Linked DNA regions of Homo sapiens: region 1 is linked to region 2. The links come from fine-mapping of genetic effects on gene expression. Tissue or cell type: whole blood. Region 2 holds a variant in brackets; the other region holds the start of a gene. All regions are shown on one strand. Distances are from middle to middle.

What was found. PIP is the estimated chance that this variant, and not a neighbour inherited with it, causes the effect.
Region 1: PKD2 starts here. The variant in region 2 is fine-mapped to the expression of PKD2 in whole blood (INTERVAL, PIP 0.98).

The regions. Positions count from the first base shown.
Region 1 is chr4:88,002,629-88,010,725 of GRCh38, forward strand. It overlaps PKD2 (polycystin 2, transient receptor potential cation channel), which reads left to right and starts at 5,007. Exons shown (of 15, transcript NM_000297.4): 1 at 5,007-5,700. The coding sequence starts at 5,106. RefSeq lists silencers at 4,770-5,699, 5,750-5,889.
Region 2 is chr4:87,860,903-87,869,017 of GRCh38, forward strand. No RefSeq gene overlaps it. Among named protein-coding and RNA genes, the nearest start is that of MEPE, 32 kb to the left of the region's middle. RefSeq lists an enhancer at 4,931-5,743. The variant G/A (reference allele first, on the strand shown) is at 4,263.

The sequences.
Region 1 (8,097 bases), 140 kb after region 2:
AGAGAAGGAAATTGAGATAGAGAGATTAGGTCATCAAGATCACGGTGCCAGCCAATTATGGTGCCAAGATAACCCCACAGAGACAGGGATGTATGCAGGCCAATCCAAACCAAATCTATCATGAAGAAGGCCACAAATCCTAGCTTTATGTTATTAAAGCAGCAAAATGACAAACAAAGTAAAGTCAAAGTCTTACTGTGGTTAGCAGTTCTTCTCATAAAGCCCAAAACACCAGATTTTCTTCTAATGATTTCAGATGTCAAGTGGTAAAAATTGATTTTACAATGTTCTTGAGTAAATAAGTACTGGGGAAAAAAATGAGGAGGAAACATGTTTGTTTGGGTAAATTGCTAAGCAACACCACACATGCCAGAAACTCCTTTTGGATTTCCTCTCGAGGTGGAGACCGCGAAACCAACGGGTACTTCACTTTGTGTCTGTTTCATCAGTTCACACTGGAAAATAAAAGCCAAACAGGCAATTCTAATAATACAAGAGTCAGAGGTGTGGAGGCCACTAATATTAAATTAGACTGAACTGTTTAAGGTTGCCTTTTAAAATGGCTCCTTCCAGCGTCCACGGTGGCACTAAGACTGAGGTGAGATTTGTGCAGCGTGTCCAGGAAGATCTAGCACACTGATGAAAAAAAAAACAAACAGCAGCCAGGCCATGTTATCTATCCCACTCGGTATTTCCAGATGCTACAGATGATGGAAATTTGTAATGTGACAACAGGATTGTGGAAATGAGATGAAAAAAACTTTGTGCACGTCACTTATTTAATAATGGAAAATTTCTTATTAGAAGTAAGGTCTTCAGATGGGTATTAAAGGAAGGAATTCCGTGGGTAGGGAGAGAAATTTACAGCCTCAGGGCCTGCTTGAGCAAAAGCTGGGCACTCTAAAGGGGAGAAACAAATTAACATAAAAGCACAAAAGGGAACCTTAGTAAGCCAGAAGGAATGAATAAGTATTTGAACAGGAAATATATTAGATGGCTGGTGTTGGGTTTATGAAAATTAAGATTGAAATTAATATTGAAACTCCAAAATGTAAGATTTAGGGTGCAATGGACCAAATGCTATTTAAGTGGTATTACACAAAAATTGCTGCGAATTTTTAATGATTACATTTCTTGCAATAATTTGTAAAGAAAATTTTGGGTAAGCACACATATAACTCTGAATTATGTATGTGCAGACACATTTCCAATCAATTTGAATTCTTTTAAGGGTGAGGATATAGTTTCAGGAAGATTTCAGATTTTGTTTTAAATAGGAACTGACACTCTAGAAAGAAAAAAAAAAGGCCTATTTATGTTATCATTAACTATAGAGAGTCTGTACTCCTTAACACACATCTGAGGCTTCCTATGATCTGGCCCTACCTACCTTCCCTACCCATGCCAGCCTGGGCAATCTCTCTTCTAAATCCCCTCAAACCCTGTAAAATATAAGCTCACCTCTATGAGAGCTAGGCTTTTCCCCTATTTAATGAATTGCCGTCTCTCCTAGTATTGTGCCTGGCATATAGTAGGTGTTTAGTAAGTATTTGTTATAGAAGCCTCTAGGATTGGCATGGAGCCCTCCAGAAACTCACAGCCTAGCTGGAACAAAGACATCCACAAAAGCAATTATAATAGATGAAAATAGTTATCATAATTAAGATATAAGAGCTAAGACCACTTCTAACACTAACAAAGACATCCACAAAAGCAATTATCATAGATGAAAACAGTTATCATAATTAAGATATAAGAGCAAAGACTACTTCTAACACTATTAGCACGTACATGTCAGACGGTGTTCCACATGCTATGGTCTGGGTGTTTGTGTTCCCCCCCCATAATTCATACATTGAAATCCTAACCTTCAAAGTGATGGTATAAGGAGCTGGGGCCTCTGAGAGGTGATTACATCATGGGGCTGGAGCCCTCACAAATGGGATTAGTGCCCTTAGAGAAGCAGCTCAAGGGAGCTCTTTTGCCCCTTCTACCATAAGACACAGCTAGGAGGTGCAGTCTATGAACCAGAAAGTAGACCCTCACCAGACCACAAATCTGCTGGCAGCATGATCTTGGACCGTCCAGCTTCCAGAACTGTAAGAAATAAAGGTTCATCGTTTATAAGCCACCCACTACATGATATTTTTTATAGCAGCCCGAATGGACTAAAACACATGTATTAATTCACCTAATCCTCACAACAACCCTATGAGGTAGGCATTATCATTATCCTCATCTTTGGTGGTACAAGGAGATAAAGTGACTTTCCCAAGGTCACACAGCTAGGAAGTAGTGAGTAAATCAGAATCCAGGCAGTCTGGCTCCAGGGTCCTTACAACGAATTAGTGACTGCAGGCACAAGCATAGAGTAACCTGACTCAAAGACCACTGAATTTTCTTCTAAGTCTGGGATTCCAGATGATTGTCTCACTAGTGCTAACAGTGAAGTATAGAAATGTGGGGGAAATATTTATGAAACCTCTTCCATTTGGAACACATTGGTGCTTCTCAAACTTTGGATGCCTGAGAATCCCCTGTGAAGATTCAGAATTTCAGGACTGGAATCCGGAAGATTTTGAGTCAATAAGGTTGGAATGTGGACCCAGTATCTATATTTTTAGCAAGAGCTGCAAGTGATGCTGGAGATCTTCTGATCACAATTTGAAAACATTGTACTAGGCCTATTCTCCAGAGGACCCTTTGGCTCAGATTCTGCATTCTCTTTCCAGGCCTGGCTCTCCTCTGTTGGAATGTGTCTGTAAGAATCCTTCGACTCTGCAGTGCTGCTGGTGCTATTCAGGACATCTTCAGCTTCAGAAGTTCCTTGGATGACAGGCACCATAACCCTTAACCCACTTGGTAATCTCTCATTTTTGGTCTGTCTCCTCTTGAGGGCCAAGGCTGTATCATACTCCTCTCTACATGCCCAGACCTTAATTCAGGGCACAGGAAATGTCTTCAGAATGAACTGATGAATAGCATGAGCTAGGGCTGTGCTCCAGACCCACCAGTCTTGCCTTTGAGAAGCTCACAGTTAAGAGAAGAACATGAATATCTAAATTAATAAACTGCAGGATCAGGTAATAGGTAGCCATAATTACCTAAATATTAGCAGCATGTTATATGTGCCTAGAGAACAAATGAATAATTCATTAAGGTGGATGGATGGCATGGGATGCCATGCTAGAGGAGTACATTAAGAGCTGTTAAAGCTAAATTGTGTCCCCCCAAAAATTTCTGTGTTGAAGTCCTAACCCCCATTACCTCAGAACATGACCATACTTGGAGACAGGGTCTTTACAGAAGTAATGAAGTGAAAACAAGGTCATGAGGGTAGGCCCTAATCCAATATGATGTATAAGAATAGACAATTAGGACACAGACGCATACAGAGGGAAGAGGGAAGACGGCGTGAGGACACAAAAGCGGGGCCATCTGCAAGCCAAGGAGAGAGGCCTCAGAAGAAACCAACTCTGCCAACACCTCGTGAGAAAATACAATTTTTCTTTTCTTTTTCCTTCCTTCCTTCTTTTTTTCTTTCTTCTCTCTCTCTCTTTCTTTCTTTATGAGACAGAGTCTCACTCTGTCACTTGGAGTGCAGTGGCCCGATCTTGGCTCACTACATCCTCTGCCTCCCGGGCTCAAGCGATCCTCCCACCTCAGCGTCCCTAATAGCTGGGACCAAAGGCACACACCGCAAAGCCTGGCTAATTTTTGTATTTTTTGTAGAGACAAGGTGAGCAAATAAATTTCTGTTAAGCCACCCAGTCTCTGGTACTTTGTTATGGCAGCCCTAACAAACAAATACAGGAGCAGATTATGAGAATTTACTAAACCAAACCACAGAAATTAAATTTTATCCTTTCAGCTGCCAGAAGCCCACAGAGGTGTCTAAGCATCAACGTGACAAATAAGCAGCTTTGGTTCTGCAATATAACCTGGAAATAGTGAGGACACCGACGTGGAGAATAGAGATGGGAGTTGACAGGGATCAATTGTTCTAATGCGGAATAATGCAAGACATAAGATCAAGCCAGCAGGAGTGAGAAACAGAGATCATATCAGGGTGATATCTGTGGGGCAAAAGTAACAAGAAGATAAGGTGTAGGCGGTGGAGGGTAAACCGCGAGGCTTCCATGAAGAAGAGTGGCCTGGGAAGTGAGGAGGACAGCGAAGCCCCAAACCTCACCTTGGGATACGGGAAGTGAAGCAGGTTCCAGAGAAGGGGACAAGATAATGACTTAGGGTAGGATAAATTTCAGACAATTGCAGAGCATCACATTAGATGTGTTCAGAAGAGTGGAAATAAAGTTCTGTGCCTAGGCCCTCATGCAGGATTCTGTTGCTAGAAGTCAGTGCTGGCCGCAGGGAGACCGGAGATCACAGTGGAGGCACCAGCGATCCGAGAGTCCTATGACGAATCCCTGGGATCCCCACAATGTGTGGAGACAGAAGCCAACCAAAGAGCGAGAAAGCATCTCCAAACCAGCAGAATCAGGGGCAGGAGGCCCGCCAAATGCACAGCAAGTCAGCCTTGGTAGTTTGCAAATGGAAAGATTTCTTTGACCCGCTGGAGACTTCAGCTCAGGCTGGATGTCGCTAATTCACACCATCTCACCAAAAGGTTCTTTCCCTGCCCTTTGGTGAATCGAGGCAGAAGTGGCTGGTGGATAACTGGGACCCAAGAGTTATCTCAGCGTCGGGCAGGCATCGACAGCTCCAGGAGCCCTTTCCCTGCAGGCGGGCTGGCGGGTGAGCGATTCCCTCCCTTCCCAGGCCTTCCCGGGAATGGAACGTGGGCGCCCGCGCCCGGGCTCCGGTTCCACTTGGAACGCGGACTCGGGAGCCGCCGGGCGAGCGCGCAGACCGCGGGGGCGGCTCCCTCGCACCTCCCCGCTCAGCGCGCCGCGGCGGATGGGCGAGGCGGGGCGAGGCCAGAGGGAGGCGGGCCAAAGGGGCGGGCGAGAGGACGCGGGACCGCGGGGAGGTCGGGGGCGGGGAGCAGGCGGCGGCGGGCGCCGGGAAGAAAGGAACATGGCTCCTGAGGCGCACAGCGCCGAGCGCGGCGCCGCGCACCCGCGCGCCGGACGCCAGTGACCGCGATGGTGAACTCCAGTCGCGTGCAGCCTCAGCAGCCCGGGGACGCCAAGCGGCCGCCCGCGCCCCGCGCGCCGGACCCGGGCCGGCTGATGGCTGGCTGCGCGGCCGTGGGCGCCAGCCTCGCCGCCCCGGGCGGCCTCTGCGAGCAGCGGGGCCTGGAGATCGAGATGCAGCGCATCCGGCAGGCGGCCGCGCGGGACCCCCCGGCCGGAGCCGCGGCCTCCCCTTCTCCTCCGCTCTCGTCGTGCTCCCGGCAGGCGTGGAGCCGCGATAACCCCGGCTTCGAGGCCGAGGAGGAGGAGGAGGAGGTGGAAGGGGAAGAAGGCGGAATGGTGGTGGAGATGGACGTAGAGTGGCGCCCGGGCAGCCGGAGGTCGGCCGCCTCCTCGGCCGTGAGCTCCGTGGGCGCGCGGAGCCGGGGGCTTGGGGGCTACCACGGCGCGGGCCACCCGAGCGGGAGGCGGCGCCGGCGAGAGGACCAGGGCCCGCCGTGCCCCAGCCCAGTCGGCGGCGGGGACCCGCTGCATCGCCACCTCCCCCTGGAAGGGCAGCCGCCCCGAGTGGCCTGGGCGGAGAGGCTGGTTCGCGGGCTGCGAGGTAAGAGCGCGCGACCCGCAGCGGCAGATGCACGAACCAGAACGGCCGGCGCCGGCCGGGGCCATCGCCCGCTGCGGCAGCTCCCCGGGCTCCATCTCGCATCCCCTCTGCGTTCCGCCTCCCTTGGAAGCGCATTCCCCACCTCCGCTAGTGCTGCCCTATTTCCGGTACCCAGCGCGGAATTCCACTGCTCTTTTGTTGGTGCATATTTATTGGATACCTCCTTCTTCAGGATATGTCACCATAGTCTTTTTTACTGAAAATTAGTGAAAGCCTAATTAGAGTGAAAGAGTACATCTGGGTTTTGTTTTTTTTTTTCTTGTAGAGGAAAAAATGAACATTACTTGTGTAACTGATGGTAGTTGCAACTGCATATTTGCCAATGTCACAAAATCTAAAGGAAAATGTTATAGTCACCCGTGGTTTCCTTCTTGCCTGGACACTCCATTGTCCCGGGCTGAAAAGGGTAGCAGTACAGTGCATATAATGTCAAGTTGTGGGAGGAGTGTGGCAGATTGTCATTGGTGCATTTTTTTGGTGATGTGTGTGGTTGTTTTGAGGAGTGGGAGCTGTTAAGAACACCACAAATAGAATAAAATAATATCGTGAAGTTATTTGGCCGTTTCTAATTCTAGACATTTTTCTAAAAACAGTTGCAAAGGAAAGATTACATTGTTTTAAAAAAATTTGAAGTATGTTTTTAAATAACTAAATTAATGTTCTTTGAAATTCCACCAAAATGATGAAGTCACCAGATAGCAGCTGATAAATGTGTCTGAGCCCAGTGCGCCCAGCTCTACAAAAGGCAGAAGAGGAATTTTCAAATTTGCCAGTGCCCAGTAAGAGGACATGAATTTTCTAGTACCAGAGGAAATTCTCTTTTTACAAATTTTGTCAGAGGTATCCTTGGGAAAGTATTTCATTTGCTTTTACCCTCCAAATTATTTTAATCTATATTTTTAAGAGTTTCCATTCTCAGTTGAGTTTTTCTTGTTCTTCTCCTTCTGTCAGTTTTGAAAGTCTTGCACAAAAACAATCCAGGTGTTGTTACAGCAGTGTGATTAAAACCAGGTCAGGCCTACACTGAAATCCCAGTTCCACCACTCATTAGCTGTACGACCTTGAGCAAGTTACTTATCCTCTCTGATACCCAATTTTTGGATTTTTTTTTTTTTTAAAGAGATGATCATAACGCTTAGGACTTGACTCTTTGGGAGAATTAAGTGAGTTAAGACATAAAATGTGCAGCATGTATTTGTCATGTTATTAGCGCTTCAGAAATATAAATGTAAACATTTTGGTACTTCGTTTATGGAGATTCTTATACTAGTTAATTTTATTAAAAGCATGATGGGGAACAGAAGATCCTTTTCGGATAACCTGTGTGAGTAAATTAATAAAACACTAACACTTTTTAAGATTCAAAACTGGATTAATTATGTTATTTTACACCATTTAAAATGTGCATTTAAAAAATATTCACTGAAGTGAGAGAGAAGTTCCTTTTAAGTTAATAAATAATGGTAAGTTGCATGATCCTTTTAACTCAGTTTAAGCATTTGATAACACCCCTAACCTTGTTTGAATAAACTCAATAACAGAATATAGAGAAATAAAATATATATTTCATATGAGTATGTATGTAAATTTATTTCTTTTAAAGGAAAATTTCAGGAAACAAAATGAATAAGCTCATAGTCATAAAACCTCTAGCCAAAGTGTGTCAATGGTCTGATTTGTAGGAGAGCAGACTCAGGAATCGGGAATTTTTTTTTTTTTTTTAAGAGTCGGGGTTTCACTCTGTCACTGAGGCTGGAGTGCGGGGAAGCAAACGTAGCTCACTGCGGCCTCAAACTCCTGGGCTCAAGCTGCCCTCCCACCTCAGCTTCCCAAGTAGTTGGGATTACAGGTGCAAGCTGCTGCTCCTAGCTGAAAAGTTTTAATTATATAAAATGTTTAAATAAATTGTTATTCCTTTCTTTTATGAAGAAATATAATTGATATTCTTGTCACTTATTAAATAAGCAACATTTTAAAATGTTTAGCACCTACTGTGAAGATAGCACTGTGCTAGCTGCTATGAATAAACTAGAATAGCATATCACTGTTTTCCTATGGACAAAAACCCAGAAATGTAAAATAAATAGCCATGAATGGGTTGAGATTCCCCCTGCCCCCTTTGGATACTGATGACAGAAATCTTATATGCACTATGTAAGCAGTGCCCTAGGATCAGAACAGAAAGTAACTTGCAATTTTTAAAGGTGGGAGAAATGACTGAAGTTTGGAGTGGTCAGGAGTTTCCCTGGAAGTCTCTTGCCTTTGTGACTTTGTATAGCTCCCTCAAACTACCTGAGCCTGAGCTCCTCATTTATAAAATGGAAGAATTGAACCTAG
Region 2 (8,115 bases):
ACGTGATCTGCCCACCTCTGCCTCCCAAAGTGCTGGGATTACAGGCGTGAGCCACTGCACCTGACCTGGTTTTTTAATTACCAATACTTAGGTATCCAAATGAAATCTCTTTGAAATTGTCATCTTGGGAAGTTATACGCTACATTTCTGAACATCTTTTAGAAATGCCTTCAGAATCCACAGCAAGTGTATTTCACTGTCACATCTTTGTTCTCTTACGTGGTCTTGATTTTAGAATTTCCAGTGCCATTAGTACTAATAGTTAACACTATTTCATGAGTCTCATAAACTGATGCCTACAGAGTAGTCCCAAGAATATTTACAGAAAAACATAATACAAGCTTAACAGATTAACATGACCACTTCATAGGCAAAAATAATAAAAAGATGTTGTGATAGTTAATTATATGTGTTGACTTAACAGGGCTAAGGGATGCCCAGATAGCCTGTAAACATTATTTTAAGTATGTCTTTGAGGGTGTTTCTGAAAGAGATCAGCGTTGAATCCATCAGTAGACTTAGTACAGAATATCACCCTCATCAATGCAGGTGGGCACCATCCAATGCATTGAGGGCCTCAAGAGAACAAAGAGGTGGCGGAAGCGTGAATTTTCTCTATCTGCTTGATCTGGGCCATCCATCTTCCCCTGCCTTGGGACGTGGGTGGTCCTGGTTTTTGGACCTTTGGACTCCAGAACTTACACCAGTAGCCCCCCAGGTTCCCAAGCCTTAAGTCTTGGACTGAATTACACCACCAGTTTTCCTGGTTCTCCAGTTGGCTTCAGTGTATAGTGGGGCTTCTTGACCTCCATCATCACATGAGCCAATTCCCATAACAAGTCTCTTCTTGTATATCTGTATATATTCTATTCGTTCCGTGTCTCTGGAGAACCCTGACTAATACAAGTATGCTGTTATTAGTAGAATAAAAAACAGTAGAGATCCACAGAGAGACCGGACTAGTTACACAATTCGTGAAGCCCAGTACCAATGAAAATGCAGCATCTCTTGTTCAAAAAGCAGGGGGAAGTGCTATTAAGTACTAAACTACAAAGCTCCTTCCTTGCTTCCACATATTTCATCTGCTCAAGCCCATGCTCCAGTGTCCCATCAGACTTCAGTTATAAACTGTAAGTTTAAAGATAATCAGTAAGAATCCCAGGATGGTAAGACAGGAGAAAGAAACCCAGTGTGGGTCCCTTCTGTGTGGGAGGTTCTGTCTGACAGCCAGCCATACAGAGATGACTTCTATTCAAAAAACACCAGCTTCCACTGATGTGTGGGAAAGTCACAGACTCTGACTTTACTCCTTCTTTTTGCAATAACACGTCTTATATTTTCAGTATTTGTTTCCGTTTAGGTAAAAGAGCAAATTCAGGAGGCGAGGAAGAGTGTATTCATTAGGGCAGCACAAGCAGTACCTCTGCAGTGGGGTCAGAGGGAGAGAAGTGCCTGGGGATAACCCCTTCCTGGCTGGCTCACTGAGGCAGGCCAGGAAGTACAGTAGCTGGTAGCTTATTTTACCTCAAGTTCAAACAAACCTTTCCCCTGCAGATGGGTTTCAGCAAACACCATAAAGTCCACTTTATACAAAACTTCATGGAAACACAGTGGGGCAAAACTAGCCTCATCCCCACCCACTCTCTGCCCCACCTCACTTCCTTTGCTCCCTGTGGCTAGCATGTCTAATTCAAGGGACAGTCACAAAAATACTGGCTATTAAACATCTTGAGGTTCATTGATATTCTCAGTGTGTTGTAGGTTTCTGCTAAAACACATTGGTGATTTAAAGGAGTCTACCAGCTCTGAAACCAAGTTTCTTAAATTCCATGAAGCAGTTCCACAGGAGTGCTGTCTTACTGTGTCCGGAATTGGTGGGTTCTTGGTCTCACTGACTTCAAGAATGAAGCCGCGGACCCTCGCGGTGAGTGTTACAGTTCGTAAAGTCCGCGTGTCCGGAGTTTGTTCCTTCTGATGTTCGGATGTATTCGGAGTTTCTTCCTTCTTGTGGGTTCGTGGTCTCGCTGGCGCAGGAGTGAAGCTGCACACCTTTGCAATGAGTGTTACACCTCATAAAGACAGTGCAGACCCAAAGACTGAGCAGCAGCAAGATTTATTGCAAAGAGCAAAAGAACAAAGCTTCCACCGTGTGGAAGGGGACCCGAAGCGGGTTGCCACTGCTGGCTGGGGCAGCCTGCTTTTATTCCCTTATCTGGTCCCACCCACATCCTGCTGATTAGTCCATTTTACAGAGAGCTGATTCATCTGTTTTGCAGAGAGCTGATTGGTCCATTTTGACAGGGTGCTGATTGTTGCATTTACAATCCCTGAGCTAGACACAAAAGTTCTTCAAGTCCCCACTTGATTAGCTAGACACAGAGCACTGATAGGTGCATTTACAAACCTTGAGCTAGACACAGGGTGCTGATTGGTGCATTTACAAACCTTGAGCTAGACACAGAGTGCTGATTGGTGTATTTACAATCCCTTAGCTAGACATAAAGGTTCTCCAAGTCCCCACTGGATTAGCTAGACACAGAGCACTGATTGGTGCATTAACAAACCTTGAGCTAGACACAGGGTGCTGATTGGTGTGTTTACAAACCTTGACCTAGACACAGTGCTGATTGGTGTATTTACAATCCCTTAGCTAGACATAAAGGTTCTCCAAGTCCCCACTAGACTCAGGAGCCCAGCTGGCTTCACCTAGTGGATTCCACACCGGACAGCAGGTGGAGCTGCCCGCCAGTCCCGCACCATGCGCCCACAATCCTCAGCCCTTGAGCTGTGGATGGGACCGGGCGCTGCAGAGCAGGGGGTAGCGCTCGTGGGGCCGCGCAGGAGCCCACGGCGGTGGGGGGCGGGAGGGAGGCTCAGGCATGGCGGGCTGCAGGTCCGGAGCCCTGCCCCGCCGGGAGGCAGCTGAGGCCCGGCAAGAATTCCAGCGCAGCGCCGGGGGGCCGGCACTGCTGGGGGACCCGGCGTACCCTCTGCAGCTGCTGGCCTGGGTGCTAAGCCCCTCACTCACCCGGCCGGCAGCACTGGCCGGCTGCTCCGAGTGTGGGGCCGCCGAGCCCACGCCCACCCAGAACTCGCGCTGGCCTGCAAGCACCAGGCGCAGCCCGGTTCCCACCCGCGCCTCTCCCTCCACACCTCCCGCAAGCTGAGGGAGCCGGCTCCGGCCTTGGCCAGCCCAGAGAGGGGCTCCCATGGTGGGGAAGCCCCGCAAGAAGTGGCCTGAAGGGCCCCTCAAGCGCAGCGAGAGTGGGCGCCTAGGCCAAGGAGGTGCCCAGAGCGAGCGAGGGCTGCCAGGAGGCTATCACCTCTCATTACCTTTTCCGTGGTAATTTTCTCCCTGGCAGGAAACCACTTAGTTCTTTTGTATCTCAGTAGGTCTGGGACTATTATAATCACATTGCGGGACTTGTCCTTAATTCAGCTAAAGGCAGGGTCCTTGTCATTTGGCCACAGAAGTAGGCTTGCAGACAATTTGAAGGGTGAGAATAATGGGATTTACTGGGCAAAAAGGAGAAAAAAAACAGAGTGAGAGTCCTCCTAGTATAAGCTTCCCACCTCACAGATTGAATCCCAAATTCCACCCAGGAAGAGGAGGGGCCAGGCTCCTCCCCACTGCAAATGGCACAGACTTCTGTGGTTCCACCCCAGTGCACACTCCTCCCAGTGGGCAGGCTGGTTGGAGATTCTTTGGGGACACTTTCCCACCTGGCTGTCTCAATTATGTGCTGAATAAAGCTTAACTATACATCGTAATATGAGAAAACAATGTGTAGAGACTATCTGTAAATTTTACCTCTTCCTCCCACCCCCCCAAAAAAATTGTGGTCAATTTTAAATGTAACTTTTGACATTGACACACTTTCCTACCTACCTCCAGTGTATATGCTAATAATGAGAGGTTTTGAGTGAAGTTACTGTATTTCTAATCATTAATTTCTAGTTACAGCACATCACAGATTTTCTTAAATCACTTTGAGATACTTTTGGAAGTTCTCGAAAGAGCTTCAAAATAAAACAAACTTTATTTTAATTGATATTAACTACTCAACAGTATTAGGAGAAAGTGGGGATACTATGAAATCAAGTTTTAAGATATGAAGTATTCTTTTTACTTCCATAAAATCCTTCCATCACTACTCCAGTCATGTTGATACCATCTGAATTCAGGTTGTACCAACTATATTTTGCTTTAGTCATTGCTGTTTCCCTCCCAGTAAATATCATTCTCTATTGATTAAACCTAA[G/A]TATATCAAATGAAATTGATATAATACAATGAAATTTCAGAATGACCCTGAGGAAGAAACCCTTAGACAAATGAGTTGAACTTTCCAAGAAGTTCCTCAGACAGGGGAGAAAAAAGACAGCAAACTGGTAAAGGAAGAAATTAGAACCGTAAGGACTAAATTTTCCCCAAAGTGAGCTTGAGGTAAAAGGTTTTCCAGTCACAATGAAAACAGAATTTGCCAACAAGGTCATGATCACGTCAGACAACTTACAATGGGGAAAAAGAAATTTACAGAAAGCCTTGTTTATTTTTAACCACAAAATTTGGACTATTTCCAAACTACCTCTGGGAAGTGCCTGTCTGCCCTTGACCGTGATGTTGTTCCTTTTTCTCTCTTCTCTCCCTCAAACCTTCCCAGCACTCAGATGCCAACTTAAGGGTAGCAGGGAAGCACTCAATTGCATTTGAAAGTTCTAATCATGTTTTGTTCCTTTAACTTACATAATTGATTCTGGTGATTTGGGCATTTATCATTGGTAAGGGATTGCTTATTAAATGAATGGGAATACTTGTGCTCCTAATTTAATGCAAAAGCTCTATGCCTTTCTGACCTATGCGGTCTGCATTATTTTTGAAAAGTATAACTTAGTTATTTGTATTGTAATCCATTTAACAAACAACCTCACTGTCGTTGGTACAGTGTAATAAACTTTCTCTGGCAGCCAAAAGACTTTATGCACAATACAATGAGTGATTTTTGAGGACATCCTTGACAGTGGGAAATGGACCATATTGTTGTTCATTTCAGGGAGAATCCTGTGGAAGAAAAATAAAAATCTGAGGACCCCAAACTCACTATGCCAAAAGGAAAAGTCAACCTTGGGAACTGAACCACACAGAACTGCCTCCCATTTTATCCCTAAATAGCAACAAAGATAGAAGGCCACCTACTTCCCCAGGAGGCCTCCCACACAATTTCCTCATGAAGGAATTTCCTGTGGGCCTCAAGATCTTTACCCTAAAACAGTTCTGTTGAATTTCACCCTGACAATGTGAAACTAACAGGTTATCTTCACAGGTAAGGGTCAAAGAACAGGACTGCAAGTGATCCCTCCCCTTGCCTGAGACAAATAGTATTTGATTTCTTCCTCTGTGTTTACTTTACCTCATGTAAAAATGCAGAGTCACTGAGCAATGCACAATTGACTATTTCTCTAACCCCTCCTTTCACATGTAACATGTGGATTCAGTGACTGATGATCAAAGCCTCAAAAGAATGCAACAGCTTGCCCCTTTTATCTATTCCCCCTGACACCCTCCCCCCCGGCTGCCTTTTTCCTTTCTCTTTTCCCTACTGCCCATTCTTTCCCCTTTAAATATTGAAGTCCCAAACCTCCTTGGAAAAAGCATGGATCACAGATGATCCTGTGATTTTGTGTTCCTTTTCTTGTCCTCAACCTTGGCAAAGTAAACCTCTAAAATGATTGAGACTCACCTCAGCCATTTTCTCTGATTTATATTCCTGCTATTTCAAGCCGGTGAATGGAACAAGGTAGACCTCATCTATTTCCCAAGAATGATATTAATTTGCAGCATGATATCTGAAAAATCATTTCTCTACTCTCCATCATTAGAAGATATAGCTCCTTTGGAAGGCCAATGAAATATGTAGGATGCCTGGTTCCTTTGTAGATATTCTGACACAAGTCTTTGGACTTTTCTAGACTGGTGGCATTCATGTAGGTGGGTGTTCAAAGATGCACAAAGGACAATGTTAATATTCTTTTGAGGCAGCTCTTAAGAACTGAAACACTCCCTATAGACCAGTCAGCTTAGATGTCTTCTAGAGCAATTAATAAACTCCATAACCCAAATAAAGTCCAGGGTTCATGAAGCCCAGTGTCTAGATGCTGCTTTCAAAGGAACACAATCATCTGTAGTGGCTTCTAAATAATATGGGCTTAGGGACTTATATTATTGGAGGGCTACTAAAGAGCCTATAATAGCTGCATTTTTTTGTTGTTGCATTTTACATAAGACTGAGAAAACACTGATTATTATTCTCAAAGAATTGACTTTTTTGATGCCACCACTGAAGTTTAGAAGTCAAAACTAGTCATGTGTAGTTCTAATCCTTACTTGCCTCCTTTGACCAGTGTCAATGGGAATTCTATAAACAATCCACAGCAATATATGTTTTGAAATTTCCTTTCCCCTTCCTCTTGCACTCAATTTCTCTCCCCATGACTCCCTGAGATCTATCTTGTCACCAACCATAAATGTTTTCCCTGAAGTCTACTGATTTACTATCCCCTTTCTGTCTCTCCTAATTTTTTTTCCATACATAGTAAATCTGGCCTTTTATTTGTGACTTTTCCCCAACTGTATCTTCTTCTCAGATTTTTGCCTTCCCAATTAACCTGGTCTACATCAATGTTTCCCAACCTTCTTTTCATTATTGCCTTTCCTAAGAAGACTTTGTAACTCCCTCCCACGGATATACCATATATTTGCTTATGTGCTATATGTATATCTGTGTTTTAGACATAAAAATAGTATAATTTTTTCACCCCTCAAGAACCAGTCCTCCTTCTTGGGAGCAGTATCACCCCAGCTGAGAATGCATGGTCTCCAACACAGGCAGGATAAGAAGAGAGGAGCAGGAACTGACAGGTGAGCAACGCCAGCAAACTGCAAGTATTTTTCATGAGAATTCTAGTTCTATTCCGTTTCTATATATATATTTGGGCATTTGGGTGTACCACTGTAGCCAGTGTTAGTCTTAAGCAAAATGGCATAATATAGCTCTCCTTCTTACCTTCTGTCTTCTCCTCTTGTTACCTCTGGATAATTAGTACCCCTCAACACTTTATTTAAAACTCATTCTTACTCCTGCACCCAGTAAACTCCTAAACATTCAGTATCTCACCCCCATTTGTGAAATAAAAACAGCTAATCTGGCATAATTCTTATATGTGAAGAACTAATCCTACAAAACTGATGTATTTCTCCTCTGGGAATTATTTGCATTTTAAAGAACATCTCCTTAAAAAAGAAAAAAGAAAAATACTCCCCTATGAGAATTAAGTCTTACTAGTAGTTCAGGCATCATATAAAGCAGGCAGGAAGATGACCCAGAATAAAGGCATTCCCTAATGCCCCAAAAATCATAAGAAGAGGTTATTCAAGCACCCCTACTCTGCCTCTTCATAATCCCTAGCCCACCACTCGTACCCAATATCTCTGCCCACTAACATTAACTATTCTTGGAGACTGGAAACTCAGAGGACAAAGAGCATCTTTAATATCTTTGTATTCACTATATAGCATCTAGTAAATACCTTGTATATTGTTCTTAACTATGTTCTTTAATTTAATGTTCTTATTTCATTTTGGGAGGCTCAGAAAACAATATCCTAAAATACACTGTTTTGGACTTCAAACTAACAGCACCTGGGAGTAGCAAATGCTGGGAGGGCTTTCTCTTATCTTCCCTTATCTGACTATGAGAAGTTCCTTTACAAGGAACACAATCATCAGCCAGGGGAGGTTAGCTCACAGGAAAAGAGACTAAAGGTCTAACACGTTGCTCAGAGAGACTTTTACCACAGGCTACAATCTATCCTTCAGAGGGCTGCTACCTGAGAGACTTCATCTACATAATAAGACAAACCTTTGGTTTTAGTGCATTTCTTCCCCTCACTCTCTCATAGCTTGTCACCCTCACCCTCCAGGAGCCCCAGCCCCTATTCCTCTCTGTATGATATAAAAACTTCAGTCATCTTATTCTTCTTTGAGTCATATTTTATGAGGCTCCCATGCATATGCACATAGTAAACCTGTATGCCTTTTCCCCTAATAATCTGTCTACT